Linked DNA regions of Homo sapiens. The protein of the gene in region 1 interacts with the protein of each later gene in a pairwise test. Each region holds a gene or a part of one and is shown in the gene's direction. Other genes may lie near its edges.

Evidence for each region.
Region 2: the proteins of SLC30A8 (region 1) and CD99L2 interact in binary tests that used the Homo sapiens proteins (3 or more experiments, as listed by UniProt).
Region 3: the proteins of SLC30A8 (region 1) and FAXDC2 interact in binary tests that used the Homo sapiens proteins (3 or more experiments, as listed by UniProt).

Annotation. Positions count from the first base shown.
Region 1 is NC_000008.11:117,151,934-117,155,684, forward strand, and holds part of SLC30A8 (proton-coupled zinc antiporter SLC30A8), read left to right. Parts: intron 1-1,010; coding exon 1,011-1,157; intron 1,158-3,751. UniProt on the Homo sapiens protein: Proton-coupled zinc ion antiporter mediating the entry of zinc into the lumen of pancreatic beta cell secretory granules, thereby regulating insulin secretion.
Region 2 is NC_000023.11:150,896,462-150,900,212, reverse strand, and holds the start of CD99L2 (CD99 antigen-like protein 2 isoform 1 precursor), read left to right. Parts: upstream 1-1,544; 5' UTR 1,545-1,624; coding exon 1,625-1,691; intron 1,692-3,751. UniProt on the Homo sapiens protein: Plays a role in a late step of leukocyte extravasation helping cells to overcome the endothelial basement membrane. Acts at the same site as, but independently of, PECAM1.
Region 3 is NC_000005.10:154,822,950-154,826,700, reverse strand, and holds part of FAXDC2 (fatty acid hydroxylase domain-containing protein 2), read left to right. Parts: intron 1-3,108; coding exon 3,109-3,314; intron 3,315-3,751. UniProt on the Homo sapiens protein: Promotes megakaryocyte differentiation by enhancing ERK phosphorylation and up-regulating RUNX1 expression.

The DNA of each region.
Region 1 (3,751 bases):
ATTAAACCTTGACAAACCAGTTATTAACTACGGCTAGAGCCAATGGCCTGTGGGGATTATTGCAATTATGAGCCATCTATGTAATTTTTAAAAATTAGGCGAGACAAGGTGAGTCTGATGATGGCGGGGCTGATGGCTGACAGTCTCTGCTATTTTGTAGTACACAAGGCAATAAACAGCTGTAGGGAGAACTAATCAGTCAGCAAAAGCCCTTTGCTGGGAAGATGTAGTAAGAGCAATAAAGGTTATTGCTCTCAAACAACAAACCATGTCTGGGAAGGAAAGGGCAAGGTTTTTCTTTAACTTCTATTTTGGAGGCTGGAGGTCTTTTCTCAAAGGAGGATTAGAGGGAAGTAGAGGGAGCACATCAAATAAAGGGAAAAGCCAGGCAGGACTCTCATGGCTTACATTGCATCCCTATGCTTTATTGGATTGTAGCACTGAGGACGCCCATTGGAAGGTACCTGCCCTTTCTCCTTTCTGCTCCCTGTTATTTCTTACAGGGATTTCAAGCTCAGGTGGATAATATATATTAATAGAGAAAAAGGAAAGGGTAAAGATGCTGATTAAATTATAAGTCAAATAAAAACACATCTGTGGGCCAGATCGCAACATCTAGTTTATAAACAAAAGTCCATGTCCTCAGTCTGGATTATGAGACTCTTTGAATCTGACCCGCACTGCTTCAGCCTGATTCTCTTGTATTCTCCTCTTTTGAATCCTTATACCCAGTCTAATTAAGGTGTTCTCCAGATGTGCCTGCCCCACACTTTCTAGTCTCTATGTCTTTTCTACCCCAGGAATGGCTTCTCCTTTGAAATTGATTTCTACATGTTCAAATCATATCCCCTCTCTGAGTCGCAGAAGGGGTGAATTAAATCAACTTTAAGATCTCTTTTTCCTCTAAAGTTTTGTGAGTCTGTGGCATTTTCACCCATGATGGTTAGCATGTCTGTGAATCTAGCTGCATTCTGGGACCTTAACACAGTGTACTATTTTGCATTCTCTAGGTGGGCACATTGCTGGGAGTCTTGCTGTTGTCACAGATGCTGCCCACCTCTTAATTGACCTGACCAGTTTCCTGCTCAGTCTCTTCTCCCTGTGGTTGTCATCGAAGCCTCCCTCTAAGCGGCTGACATTTGGATGGCACCGAGCAGGTACGGTTCATAGAGTGAGCAATAACAGCAGGCTGGTGCTGCAAAGTCAAACCAAGGGTAAAAGTGGAAGACACGAAGCAAAGCCTTGTTGGAAAGTCCTTAGAGACACATTTCTGATGCACAGGATAAAACAAATGTGTATGTGGGAATGTGTGTTTTCAATATTAATTCAGATAACAGACAGATTAATGGTGCTATCTCTAGTCCTCTGGGACAACAGGAACACGTGTATCACTTCAGCAACTGCCCCAGCCTCAGGGACTCTGTGTATGGTGACAGACATAACGCAATTCATTAAATTACTCTGCATCCCTGGAAGAGAGGATAGGAGTAAAGCTTCTGCCATATTGCAAAATGAGGCACAGAGCACCCAAGAGAGTTATAGAGATTGAAGAACTTCTTATAGAGGATTCAGGAATAGAATATAGGCTTTCCTGCTCACACACAGCATTTAGCCATTCAGCCATTGGTCCAATTGAATATCTTGCTCGCTCAATCAACAATAATGCAAAAAAGGAGGAGGAGAAGGAAGAGGAGAAGATGAAAGTTTACTTTTTCTCCTTTCTTGCGCTGGTTCCTTCACTGAATAACTGCTTACTCTTGTATAGGCAGTAGCCAAGGTCATGATAAGGGGTGTGTGTGTGTGTGTGTGTGTGTGTGTGTGTATTCATTCTTTATTGCTCAGTTGACTGTTGTAACAGGAGGAAAGCAAACACGTGCTGAAACATGTGCCTGAGCCTTGCCTGCCATTTATTAAATGTGGTTCACGTGTGCTTCCTTAAATAATTTCACAATAGACAAATGAATCCACTCTGATTAAGAAAGGGAGAGAAGAAGTCTAGTGCAAATTCCAGCCTTCTCAACTCATAATTATAGGGATTTCAAATAACATGTATGCACTAAAACAGACATAAATAACTTAACCAAGTAGCATAAACAACTTGGAGGTCTCTAAATTTGGTATATAACACATTTGACTGTATGCTTTTTTAAATTTTAATTTTAATTTTAATAAGTTCTGGGGTACATGTGCAGGATGTGTAGGTTTGTTACATAGGTCAACGTGTGCCGTCATGGTTTGCTGCACCTATCAACCCATCATCTAGGTATTGATAAGGGTTTTTACTTTGACTCATTTTTACAGTCCCTCCCTAACCCACCCCCACAACCCCCACACTCTGCAACTTCAATTCTTCTCCTCTGTGTTATTCCTTCTATCAGCTGGAGGAGGTTCCGGCTGAATATTTTGTGCAAATCATGTGAACAAATAGCCACAATTCCACATTTTCACACTGGTTGAGAACATCCATGTAGAGGAAATTGGAGAGCTGAGCAAGGGTGGCCAGCCTTCACTGAAAGGGCTGCTAGACACATATCACAGCTTATAGACTGATAACTGTGGACTGCGGCTTTTCAAGTTTAGAATGGCAGGAAGTCCTAATTTCATACTAAACAAACACTTGATCATCGCAGGTGTTTTGACTTGCTTCCCTTTAACATTCAGGAGATGAGGCAATAAACAGCAGTAAAGAGAGTTTGTGACAACGTGATCTGAGAATGTTTTTGCTGGTGCTTGAACAGCGCTACACTTGGAAAACATGGACCTGTAGCTAAGCACCCATTATTTGTCTGTGTAAAGTTTTACATGTACTTGACCCTTTCTGATACCATTTGTCAAAGCAGTTTTGTAAACCTAGGATGATTTGAAAATGTAGGGTGAACTCAGAATTTAGATCTCTGCTTGTACTTTGGCATCGTGGCCATGGAAGACCCTGAGCTATTAATAGAACTCTCTGCTGCGAGGGCAATATTCTGTAATATACAGTAAAATGTAGCTATTGAGCACTTTAAATGCAGCTAGTGCTACTGAAGAACCAGATTTTAAAATTTACTTAATTTCATTTTAAGCAGCCATGCATGATTGGTGGCTACCATATTAAACAGCACCTCTATAGATACAGAGGTGAGTCCAACACATTCATACGCAACACACCCATAATCTGGCCAGCCCAATGAGCCCAGCTAAGCTAACTTATTTCTTTTTTAAGCAATCATTGTAACATTTACCAATGATCCTCATGTGCCTCCTGTTCTAACTAGTTACTTTTGGATTTCTGACTCTTTGTTTTGTCTTAAGATCTGACTCCTGACTCTTGCTCTTGGTATTGAGCTTTACCTCGCCAGCTCTTTTCCCACTGTGCTTCCTAATCATGGGTTTTGAGTTAGACACACTCCACTTTCATACCCTGTTTTGGATTTTCATGGATAGGAAGCACACTACCTGACATCCACAGACTCAACCTCCATTTCCGGCTAACCAGAAATTCTTGGGCTTGGTCCTCATAAACTTCTGCAAAGGGGAGTCGTAAGTAGCCTGAGTAGACTAATAAAATAACAATTTCTTGAGTGTTTGCTATATGTTATATTAGGTTCCTAGGGCTGCCTTAATAATGTACTACAAATTGGGTACAGTATTTTGGGGGGTACATTATTAATTTTCATAACAAATTATGAAGGTTGTCTATGAATGAGGTCGGGGAAATAATTGCCATACACTGGGTAATAATATATTACATTACTTGGTTTTAAATACA
Region 2 (3,751 bases), on another chromosome or scaffold:
AGTGGTACCCTCCCCCTTTGACACATGAGACTAGACCTGGCTAACTCCCCAACCTCAAGGAACCTCCATTTTGCTGCTTTTCCCTCGTTAATAGGTGATGATACATAAGGCATTGTGAGGAATAAAAATTAAGGGTAAAATGCCTGGAATATGCCATGTGTATAGTGTGTGTTCAATAACTACCAGCTATTTCTGTTAATTCTACAGCTAGAATGGAATAATGTTCCATTCATAGAGTAATTAATGCCCTGAGCCTGGGAAGATCCACTCCTCATATGCTGTTTTGTTTCTGCAGCCCTAAGATTCAGGGCAATGGATGTAAGCCACACGGGAGATTTCGGCTCCATCTCAGGGAGACCCCACACCCCACTGTTCCTTAGGGGTTGGTGGGAGCCACTGAGGGGGGTGCCTATGGCAGCGAGGGCTGGGTTGGGGGCACAGGAAAGCTGCCGAATGGATATTGAGGGGAGGTGGTAGTAGCCGCCCTCTAAGGAGGATGTGGCCCTGGGCAGCCGGTGCCGCATAATGGCAGGGACAGGCTCACGCTACCACTCCGGAGAGCAGTAGCGCTTCCTCTTTGTCTTCGAGAGCCGGTTGCAGCTGGGGCTCTTCTAGGGAGCGTTCCCATCAACTGCTGCAGCGGGCATTTTGCTGGTCGGCACAGTATCGTATCGGAATCTGATTTCTTCGGGTCTGGGAGACGGACTCCGTTTGCGGGGGTTCATGGGAAAGGACTGCAGCGCGTTTGTCGGTCATTAAGCACGTTTTTGAGATCGACTCTGCAGATATGAACTTGCACTTTCAGCGCATTCATCAAAGCCTCGGGAGAGCTGACCCAGTCCCTACCCCCAGTCTCCCGAGCCCGCGGCGCTTCGGCTCCGGGACGCCCCCATCCTCCCCTGTCGCCCACCCGGGCGCCCCCGGCCTCGTTTTCTCGAGACGTGTCACTGCTTGTTGACCGCAGCCAGTCACGAAAACGGTCCTTTTCTTCAGTCTCCGGCCAGGGTTTCACTCCTGCAGGGAACAGCGGGTGGGGACAGAGTGCGGGGCTCCGTGCTGGACGGTGTCTGGAGGGGCCCCAAGGGAACAACCCTTCACCGGGAGAACACCAAGGCCAGAAGGGGAAGAGCCCTTCTCAAGGTCACCCGGGAGGAAATCGGCGCCCACCGGCGCTGCCGCCTCCCGCTCCCCGGCACTGGTGACTCACTGCTCCAGGTCCGCGGGGCCACCTCCGAGACTTCGGTCTCGAGGACCGAGGTGGGACAGGGTCTGCGGACCGCGCGCTGCCGCTGGACCCAGCCCAACCCAACCCAGGCCTCCCCACCCACCGGGTGCCCGCAGGCCACGCCCCTCGCCCGGAGCCCCGCCTCCAGAACGCGGCCCCGCCCCCGATACTGCAGCCTCGCCCCGCCCCCCGGCCTAACCCCAGCCCAGGCGCCCTCAGGCGCCGGCTCTCTAGCGCGCCCGACCTCCATCTTCCCGGGGCCGCGCCGCGCGCGCGCGCGGGCTTTGGGCGGGACCCTGCAGAGGCGGCGGGGCTCCTCCTCCCGCTCCTCCTCGGCCTCCCCTTCGGGCGCTCTCGCGCTAACTGTGCTCCTCCGGGGCCCTCCGCCTGCTCCCAGCCATGGTGGCCTGGCGCTCGGCGTTCCTTGTCTGCCTCGCTTTCTCCTTGGCCACCCTGGTCCAGCGAGGTAAGGCGGGCGGGGGGCGCGCGGGGACCGCGCGGGGACCCCGCCTTGTGGGCCCAGGGGTCGCTCTGCGCATGAGCGGCACGGTCCCCGCCTCTCGGGCCTGCGGTGGCTGCCACCGGCCGGCCCGGCTGTGCGAGGCGGAGCGGCGGGGGTCCGAGCCCCGGGCCCGTGGGGGTTGACTCCGCCGCGGTCGGAGTAGCCGGAGAGGAGGGGTGGGTCCCCTCCTGACGCTGGGCTGGAAACAGCGGGATGGGCCCCCTAAAATCCTGAACGAGCAGGTGTACCACTGGTGACAACAGCTGTCCCCAAGAGTTTACCTTTGAGAAAACCTTGAAGAGAGCAGTCATTTTCGAAATTTGCTGCGAGGCCACCGACAGCAGAAGCACCTGGGGAACTTCCTAGGTGGATTCCTAGCCCCTTTCATCGGGATCACAGCGGGCATGGGCTGTGGGGGGGGGGGGGGGGGGTCAGCGAGGCGTAGGTCTAACCAGCTCTCTAGGTGCTTCTGCCGTCCGCTTCAGTTTTTGAGACTTTGGTCATGTTTTGCCAAGGAGCAGGAGAGAGAAATCCCGCTGAATCAAGGAAGCACGTTTCTTAGACCCTCTGCTACTCAAAATGTGGTCCAGGGCCCAGCCGCATAGGCATCACCTGGGAGCTTGTAAGAACTGCAGCATCTCACGCCCCGCCCCCGACCTACTGAGTCTGATTCTGCATTTCAACTAGATCCGCGGGTGATTCTCTGGCACATTCAAGTTTGAGAAGCATCTTAGTAGAATAAATGCAGTCTGTGGTTAAAAATAGGGTCTTAAACATGTACCAACAGAATCTTCTTACACTTATTTATATCCTATGTCCCCATCAGAAAAAGGGATTAAGGGAAACACTGTAATTGAACGTGAATTATGCTCCAAGCTTCCTGACAATAGAAGCGAACCCAGCTGGTGGAAAATATGTGAGCTCAGGAAACACACACACACACACACACACACACACACTTTGTCCTAGTACTGAGTTCTAGTAAGATTTATGTCACATAAAGGAACACTGGAAAACAGTGGATGGTACTAGCCAAGCCACTTTTGCAAAAGATGCAGAAATGTTTTTCATGTGGGCAACCCACCTGGAGTTGATTCACGAAGAGCCATTTAACATTCTGCAGAGGTGCCAGGCTCTGTTCTAGGAACTGATGATGCGGTAGTGAACAAAATTGAGACTGTCTTCATGGAGCTTACATCCTGGTCCGGGCAGAAAACAAGCCCAACATTGAAATCTATATATATTGTCAGTGCTATGGAGAAAAATAAAGGAAGTTACAGGGGTAAAGAGTTGTTGAATTTTCTTTTTCATTTTCCCTTTGGGATAAAATTTTTATTTTGTTTACAATGCATTTGTAGGAAAATGTATGATCATTTGATTGACTTGCATCTAATGACATGGAAATCTTGAAAGTAGAAGCACAAAAAAAGTTAGAAAAATGATACTCCCTTCAAAGCTGTCTTCTGAAAGTCTTCAACATGGTGTGCCCGTTGAGAAGGTGGGGAATAGAAATGATTGGGTCTCAGATTTGCACGTTACAATTGTTGATTTAAGAGGTGGTAGAGGAGACAGAAACAGTACATCTGTTTTATAGATGAGGAAACAGAGGCACAGAGAGGTGAAGTAACTTGCCTTAGGTCACACAGCGATTGCCAGAATTATGATTTGATGCAAGGCTTGTCTGACTGCGCAGTCACTGCCTTTAAGCCCTAGGCATATGCCCTTGCACCTGGAGGTACCCCACTTCGACTACTTAGGGACCATGGGAAAATGAGTTCCCCGAACTTGTTTGATCATCCATATGATGCCTGACAATCACAAAGGTGTTTTGAGGGGACCAGGCTTAGATCTACAGCCTTGCTACCAGCTACCATCTCCTGAGTTCTTCCTGTGTGCCAGGCACTTCACATATATTGCTTTAAATTGCCTCGACAATTTTGCAGGCTAGATATTATCACTGGCTTTCAGATGAGGGGGCCCTGGTCATATAGCTCAGAAGACATAGAGCCAGGATTCAACCCAGA
Region 3 (3,751 bases), on another chromosome or scaffold:
CAACATTTCTTTTGGTAAGTTCACCAATGATATGGTTTCATTAGAGCACCAGAGACATTTCCACAGCTGCTGACTCCCTCAGCCTTGAAATATTTTTTTCACTTGGCTTCCAGGACACCCTGCTCTCTAGGTAGCCCCTCAATATTTTCTTTTCTTTTTTTTTTTTTTTTTTTAGAGACAGTCTTGCTCTGTTGCTCAGGCTGGAGTACAATGGCGCAATCTTGGCTCACTGCAACCTCTGTCTCCCGGGTTCAAGCGATTCTCCTGCCTCAGCCTCCCCAGTAGTTGGGATTACAGGCACCTGCCACCATGCCCAGCTAATTTTTTGTATTTTTAGTAGAGACGGGGTTTCACCAAGATGCCCAGGCTGGTCTTGAACTCCTGACCTCAGGTGATCCATCCACCTCGGCCTCACAAACTGCTGGGATTACAGGCATGAGCCACCGCGCCCGGCTCCCCATCACATCTGATTGTTCACTTTTTCACTGTCCCTTTCCTGATTCCTTCTCTTCTCCCCAACCTCTTCATGCTGAATGTCCCATGGGCTCTGGCCTTGGTCCTCTTCTCTATATTCATTCCCCCAGTTATCTCTTCAGTGCCATGACTTTAAATACCATCCATAGGCCGACAGCTCACACATTTATCTCTCTAGCCCAGAACTCTCTACTGAATTCCAAGCTGAAATATCCAACTCCCTCCTTGACATCTCCACGTGGATACTAATAGAAATTGCCAATTCATGATGTCCAAAAGAGCATTTCTGATCGTCCTGCCAAAGCCTTTACTTACTACCCACAACCTCCCCAATCTGAGTGGATGGCAATTCCAATCTTCCAGTTTCTCAGGCCAAAAACCTTGGAGTCATTCTTGACTACTCTCTTTCCTTCATACTCCACATCCAATCTATCCAGGAACCCTATTAACTCTATTTCTGAAATAAATTCAGAATCCAGTCACTTCTTACCACTTCTCACCACTTCCATCACTATTACCCTGGTCTAATTCACCATCTTCTCTTGTCTATATTACTGCTTTTTTTTTTTTTTTTTTGAGACGGAGTCTCACTCTGTCACCCAGGCTGGAGTGCAATGGAGCAATCTCGGCTCACTGCAACCTCCCGGGTTCAAGTGATTCTCCTGCCTCAGCCTCCTGAGTAGCTGGGATTACAGGCGCACACTACCATGCCTGGCTAATTTTTGTATTTTTAGTAGAGACAGGGTTTCACCGTATTGGTCAGGCTGGTCTCAAACTCCTGACCTCGTGATCTGCCTGCCTTGGCCTCCCAAAGTGCTGGGATTACAGGCATGAGCCACAGCACCGGCCTGCCTTTTTTTTTGATGGAGTCTTGCTCTGTCACCGAGGCTAGAGTGCAGTGGCATGATCTCGGTGGCTCACTACAACCTCCGCCTCCCGGATTCAAGTGATTCTCCTGCCTCAGCCTCCCGAGTAGCTGGGACTACAAGTGCATGCCACCACGCCTAGCTAAGTTTTTGTATTTTTCGTAGAGACGAGGTTTCACCATGTTAGCCAGGATGGTCTCAATCTCCTGACCTCATAACCTGCCCACCTTGGCTTCCCAAAGTGCTGGGATTACAGGCGTAAGCCACAGCGACTGGCCCTTTTTTTTTTTTTTTTTTTTTTTAACAAGATTGGGTCTCACTCTCTCACGCAGGCTGGTGTGCCTTAAACTCCTGGACTCACATGATCCTTCCACCCCAGGCTTCTGAATAGCTGGGACTACAGGTGCACACCACCACATCCAGCTTTTTAAAAAAAATTAGATGGGGTTTCGTGATGTTGCCAAGGCTGCTCTCAAATTCCTGGCCTCAAGTGATCCTCCCACCTCCACCTCCCAAAGTGCTGGGATTACAGGTGTGAGCCACCGTGCCCAGCCTGATATATATGTTTTTATATTTGTTGTGTCTAGTCTACCTTTCTCACTGGAACATAAATTCCATGGGGGCAGGAATCTTTGTTTTGCTCATGCTTTATTTTCAACACCCAGTACACTGAGTGCTACATAGTGGGTACTCAATAAATATCAGTTAAATAAATAAATGAATAGATAGATGTGATACCCCGCCTCTTGGTCAAGGTTTCCAGAAGGTGTAATGGCCTCACCTAACATGTCCTCTCACAACAGGCTGGCGAGACCTGGCCTCGCAATGGGATGGAAGTAAACAAAGAGTGAATTCTGAAATCAGTTAATGCATGCAGTGCCTGGAAAGGCTGGAGGAAGAGGCAGGCCTCAAGCTGGGGACCATTCTGAACCTGTCGCGCTTTGGGGCAGAAATCCCTCCAGCTCACAGAGGGAACTTGGAGAAATCCCTTCTAACCAAACAAGTTCATCAGGATCCAGGAAGTAATCTATGGTCACAGGACTGTTGCCTGGAGCCCCAGTGCTCTGACAAAGGGAAGGGTCAAAGGGTTGCTGATTCTGGGGGAAATATTGGCTGCAGTATTGAGGCCAAATGGACTTTGGACACTTGGGACCAGCTCTGTACAGTGGACCCTGGTGGAAATGCTTGGGCAGGCCCCCATCTTCACAGCATCACTGTGAAAACCAGCAAGTTGGTCAAGAAGCTGGATAAGCAGTTCCTTGGCTTACCTGCTTCTTTGCTCTGGGCCTACTGCAGGGAGGCTGGACCACTTGAGGAGGCAGATGATCTTGATCTCTGCATCCAATCATGAACAAGGTTCTCTGATGAAGAGGGGCTAAATGGCTGAAATGGGGTATCACTCAGAAAGTCACAGCCTTCTCCAAGCACCATGGAGGCTACCCAAGTTACCTGTAAATACATGGGGCCTGGCCAGAGAAATGGGGAGGGCAGTGGTGATAATGTGCAGAACCAGGAAGAAGGCAGGTTCCGACACAGACTGAAGGCTGCTGAAGTTTCCAAGGACAGGGGTATTACTCACCTGCCTAGCAGCCAGGGCCTTATTCTGCAACGTTTCCAGGCCCAGAGCTGGGTGGCAGTCAGGAGCTACTGGCTGTCCCCCGACATCTCTCCCAGAATCCAACCAGAGTGAGGGCCTCCTGTAAGCAGGTCACGGTGGAGCCTACTTCTCACACTCTTATCCATCTCCCTCCTCCCTTCCCTTGGGCAGGTGGATCCTGTGAAACTGCGCCAGTCTATCCGCACAGTTCTTTTCAACCAGTGCATGATATCTTTCCCCATGGTGGTCTTCCTCTATCCCTTCCTCAAATGGTGGAGAGACCCCTGCCGCCGTGAGCTACCCACCTTCCACTGGTTCCTCCTGGAGCTGGCCATCTTCACGCTGATCGAGGAAGTCTTGTTCTACTATTCACACCGGTGAGCAGGCCCTGCCTGAGGCACAGCTGGCTCCTCATCCTGTCTAGGGCTCACTGATCAACAAGGAAACTGAGGCCAGGTGCAGTGACTCACGCTTGTAATCCTGGCAATTTGGGAGGCTGAGGTGGGCGGATCACTTGAGCCCAGGAGTTTGAGACTAGCCTGGGGAATGTCAGGAGACCCCGTCTCTACAAAAAAATTTAAAAAATTAGCCAGGCATGGTGGTGTGTACTTGTAGTCCCAGCTACTTGGGAGATTGAGGTGGGAGGATCACATGAGCCCGGGAGGTCAAGGCTATAGTGAGCTGTGATCACACCACTGCACTCCAGCCTGGGCGAAAGAGCAAGACCTTGTCTCAAAGAAAAAAAATAAAAGGGAACAGGCTTCTGAATTGAGTGTAGGCCAGTAAAATACTCCCTGGCCTCAAGTGTCCCATT